Linked DNA regions of Homo sapiens: region 1 is linked to region 2. Evidence: fine-mapped expression QTL. Tissue or cell type: whole blood. Region 2 holds a variant in brackets; the other region holds the start of a gene. All regions are shown on one strand. Distances are from middle to middle.

The links. PIP is the estimated chance that this variant, and not a neighbour inherited with it, causes the effect.
Region 1: FAM174B starts here. The variant in region 2 is fine-mapped to the expression of FAM174B in whole blood (TOPMed, PIP above 0.99).

The regions. Positions count from the first base shown.
Region 1 is chr15:92,654,749-92,657,248 of GRCh38, forward strand. It overlaps FAM174B (family with sequence similarity 174 member B), which reads right to left and starts at 1,027. Exons shown (of 3, transcript NM_207446.3): 1 at 568-1,027. The coding sequence starts at 911. RefSeq lists silencers at 404-473, 524-573, 674-873, 1,154-1,203.
Region 2 is chr15:92,704,495-92,707,256 of GRCh38, forward strand. No RefSeq gene overlaps it. Among named protein-coding and RNA genes, the nearest start is that of FAM174B, 50 kb to the left of the region's middle. The variant G/A (reference allele first, on the strand shown) is at 1,107.

The DNA.
Region 1 (2,500 bases), 50 kb before region 2:
CTACTACCCCCCACACTAGAAACTGCTTCTTTCAGTAGCAAAAAAAAAAAAAAGAAGAAGAAGAAGAAGAAGAAAAAGTAGGCGGGGCGTGAGGGAGCTGCAGATGGTAGAAGGGAGAGGGAGTAGCGAGATTAAAGTTAGACAGGCCTGGGTTCAAGTCCTACCTCCACCACTGAGTTTACCTTAGATGAGCCATTTTGCCTCTCTGAAAATGTTTTCCTCATCTGTGAAATGATTATAAAAATAAATTATGGGAAACGCTGTCAGAATTCAGAGCGCTATTGTTAGTGTTCAGCATTAGCAGAAAGCCAACAAATGGGAACCACATATTTATTTTATATATATAGTTAAAGAGAGGAAAGAAAATTCCTAAAACATGTACCAGGAAAATCCAGACGAGCACACCCCGGCCCCCCACCCACTCTCCCGGGCAGGGCAGGAGGCACACGGCTGGCTGGGGCGCACCAGGGCACCTGTGCGTGCAGGTGGGGCGGGCGCGCGGCGACAGCAGGTTGGCGATGCCGCCCTGTCGGCCGGCGGGGGAAGGAAGAGGGCGGGAGGGCCCACCTGAAGACGCGCAGCAGCAGGCAGGCGATGAGGAGGGTGGTAAAGGCGAACGCCACGATCACGGCTGCCTTGAGGGTGGGTAGGTCGCGGAGGAGGATGGAAATGCGGGTCACCAAGGCGTCGCCACTGCTGTTGGAGCTGGAGCTGCCGCTGCCGCCCGCCGCCCCAGACCCAAACCGGGTGGTGTTCCCGGGCCCCGGGCCGGGCGGTGGCCGCGACTCGCGCTCGGGTTCGGGCCACGGCGCGGAGACGGACTCGGCTCTGCTGGCGCGGGCGGCGGGAGCGGCCAGGAGCGCGAGCAGCAGCAGCGGCAGGAGCGGGGCGGGCAGCGGCACGGCGCGCATAGTGCGGTGGGTCGGCACAGGATCGGGCAGGGCGCGCGCGGCTGAGCTCCAGGATCCGCACCAGCACGGAGGCCTGCACCGGGGGATCCTGCGGCGGAGGCGGCTGCGCGGTGCTTGGCAGGAAGCTGCGGCGCCCGGAAGAGCCCGCGCCACCGCCGCCGCCACCACCAACACGTTGCAAGGAGTCATTCGACGGGCCGCGGCCCCACGTGGGCGGGGCAGGCCACCCGGCCTGGGTCCCGGCTGCGCTCCGCTCGCCCGCGACCCCAATTCCTCGGGACTTGAGACCCCGTGGTGAAGCAGCAACTGCCACGATGACACTTGGGCTGGCCCTGTGTTACACGTTTCACGTGTTTTATTTATTTCATTTAATTCTACAACCCCCTTTGAAGACAGGTATTCTGTTACCCACATTTGATAGCTGACTTGGCACCCAAAGAGCCAGCTCACAGCAACCCACATTGTGTCAGACTAAGAATCAAAAACTATGGGACCTAGAAGTAGACTCCCATCTTGCAGATCAAAAACTGAAGCCGACAGTGAAGTGGTTGCCTGATGTCCTATGCAACGCATAATTTCAGTATCTCCCCTAATTTCCCTCTTTCTCAAAAGGGGTTTCTTATTTCATGCGCCTCTGCTTACGAACCGGACTGGGATGTGAATCTCTGCCTCTCATACCTTTGTTGTGGAACACCAGTTGGTGTGGTTAATGCCCCCCTGCCTGGCTGAAGTTTCTCCGGGGAATAATTGGCTTGCTGCCTCTGGTTTGTAAGCTAAATGATGCTTAGGTGGAGAAAGACAATTAAGGAAGTTCTAGTGGGAGGCCCAAAGGTGGAAACTGATGGGGACACAGAGCCCCTACCTGAAGTACTAGGAGCCATTCCCAGGGCTTCAGGGTTCCCCTTTTACACTGCAGATGGGTCCTGGCAGGAAGCTTTTCGGTGGTGGGTAAACAGTTAAATACACATGACATGACAAGGTCCCAGGGACCTTAAACAGCCCATTTCTGGTCCTGCTGGAAAAAGAGACAAATATAGTACAGTGTATTAGTTGTCTACTGCAGCATAACAAATTGCCCTAAAACCTAGCTGCTTAAAACAACATGCATTTAGTATCTCACAGTCTGTGGGTCAGGAAACTGACCATAGGTTACCTGGGTTCTCTGCTTCAGAGCCTCTCCCAAAGGTGCAATCAAGGTGTCAGCTGGGGCTGGGGTCTCCTCTGAAGGCTCAACTGGGGAAGGATCTGCTTCCAAGCTCAATCAGCATTTTTTGGCCAGATTCAGCCCTGCACTGGCTGTTGGACTGGAGCCTCAGTTTCCTTGGGGCAGTTGGCCAGAGGTTGCCCTCAGTTCCTTGGCATGGGGCCCTTCCAACATAGCAACTTGCTTCATCAAAGTATGCAAGTCAAGATAGCAATAGAAAGAGTCACCTACCAAGACAGAAGTCACTGTCTTATGAAACCTCATCACAGAAGTGACATTCTCACACCTTTGTCATATTCTATCAGTTAGAAGCAAGTCACAGGTTTTATCCACACTCAAGGAGAAGGAATTACACAACAGTATGAATATCAGGAAGCAGGGATCA
Region 2 (2,762 bases):
CTGTTGGCTTCCTTCCTTTCCCTATTCTCGCCTTCCCCCTCCTGCCCCATCGATGCTCCCCGAGACTGCCTCCCAAATCATCTATTAGCACTCAAACCCTAACTCAAGGTCAGCTTCTGAGGGAGCCCAGCCTAAGACAGTTGTTATTACTACACTTAATATAATAGATATGTCCCTATGTGTAATTGCCATAGGTATCATTATATGTAAAATATATATGTTGTTATTGGTTAGGAAAAAGACCCCAAAAACAGAGGGAAGGACAAACAAGGAGGGAGCAGTGGTGACACAGAGCCCCTTCGATGAGGCAAGACACCAGGGAAAGGCAGCCACCACCTCAGCCAGGTCTGTGGCTCTCACATTCTAGAACAGCATCTCTTAACACGTGTGTCATAGATGTTCAGTGGGGCCCGAGGTGAACTGCGAGACACCACTCTCCTCTAAGCCTCCTGCCCTGGAGGGGCAGGACCAGTGTGTCTTCTTTTCTTTCAACTGTATTTTTTCAATTGTAGTTGAAAAAAAAAACCCAAAACATAAAATTTACCATCTTAACTATTCTTAAGGGTACGCCTCAGTAGTATTAAATACATTTGCAGTGTTGTGCTACCATCACCACCATCCATCTCCAGAACTCTTTTTATCTTTTGGTTTGTTTTGAGATGGTGTCTCACTCTGTGGCCCAGGCTAGAGTACAGTGGCGTGATCTCTGCTCATTGCAACCTCCACCTCCTGGATTCAAGCGATTCCCCTGCCTCAGTCTCCTGAATAGCTGCAATTACAGGTTTGTACCATCATGCCTGGCTAATTTTTGTATTTTTAGTAGAGACAGGGTTTCATCATGTTGGCCAGGCTGGTCTCAAACCTCTGACCTCAAGTGATCTACCTGCCTTGGCCTCCCAAAGTGCTGGGATCACAGGTGTGAGCCACCATACCCAGCCCTTTTTATCTTGTAAAACTGAACTCTATACCTATTAAACAATAACTCCCCATTTTTCTCTCCCACCAGCCCTGGGCAACCACTGTTTGACTTTGTCTGTATGAATTTTACTACCTTCAGATCCCAATGTAAGTGGAATCATACAGTATTTGTCCTTTGCAACTGGGGT[G/A]GGACAATTCTCTAGCATATTCCGCCATCCCTGCAGAACTCAACCTCCAGCTGCCCACGGTGGGAGCAAGCTCAGTAACACCCCTTTACTGGCTGCCTGCCCTCCCGTCTCATTTCCTCAAATCCCTACAGGATTTGCTTCTGGGGGAACTCAAACTTAGGCAATTGAGCACCTGCCAAGGTGCCACAATTGAACACATACTAGAGGCTTTATATATGTTGCACAGCATCTATCAAGAAACAAAAATAAAAGACATTGCTCATGCATGAAGAGAAAGGTCAGCCCTTTGTTTCAAGACAAATGTCCACAATCACAAAGGGAAGAATGTTCCAACTCTGAGGCCAAGCCAGGTGAACAGAATGTGACTGAGCAGATCCTTTTCAGGTTACACATTCTCTGACAGAAGGAACAAAAAGACCAACTTTCCAATGGAGGGAGAACCAGGTTTCCAAAGGATAGCAAATGCATTGTTTATTGTCTGGGGTTGGTCCCATTGTTGAGCACACATTCCTTGGAGAAAACGTTTTGCCAAGATGATTGAGGTTTAGTCTGCCCAGCTTTTGAAAATCTGCCCTTTCCTTGCTCCAGGGTTGGCCTGAATTCACCATCACAGGTAAGGAAGCAAAAAGCAGAGGCCTCTTCACCCGTTCCAGGAAAGGCACAGTGAACTCCAGTTAAGTTTGCGAGCTGGATCATTAGCGTCTCATTAATGACTTCAATCTCTCACAAACACAGGGAAGACACAGAAAACCACTGTCTGAGCCACGAGCTGTAATTGCTGCTGTCCTTCTAAGCAGGGGAAAAGCAGACCACGCTTTGTGGCTTCTTAAAAGCCCTGTTCGTTAATGAGGTTTCCTAATTTAGGGCAGAAGAAAACTTCTGGGTTATTATTAGGCTACAAATGGAGGCATGTGTTTCATTTAATCGCCCTACTTAACAAAAGAAACTTTGCTTTTGTAAATTAAAGAATTATTTTTAAGTGTTAGAGGCCTCTGGATAACCTTGAATAAAGCCTCAAACATGATCAGGCCTTGGTGGCCAATCTAGAAATCTAACAGACCAGGGCAAATGATCCCAAAGGTTTTGTCCAGCTTTAACAATCTGTGGTTTGCAAGGACAAGTGGTTTCAAAGGCTTTGCCCAGCTCTAATAACCTATGGTTTTGTTGATACCACCTCCTCCCTGCCTCCGACAGAGGTCCCTTGCAGATACTGAGCCTTCAAAATCCACGTCTTAATTGTATCTATTCTATTAATAACTCTTGGGGTCTTTAGATGCTGTTGGCAACCACAGCACCTCTTATCTGCTTGGGATCCCGTGCAAGTTGCGCACAGAGGATCCCATCTGTGGGCTCAGAAGCACAAAGGGAACAGCAAAATCTTCTATCTGCCATCTATGGGGAAAAAAAAAGGTAATTACCTCTGTCAGTTGCATATGTTGAGTCACCCTGAGACAATGGAGGTCTTCTTCAGGCTGAATTTAACATCACAAATCATCACCTTAAATGCATGGGTACTGGAGAGGCGTAGCCAGGTATTATGAAGGCTTTAAAACCCATACTCATAAAATATAACAGAAAAATTCGTCTTTCAGGTTTACAACCAACAAAATCTGTGATATCTCTTTTGTGAATGCTTTTAATGTTCTCTGCAGAGCA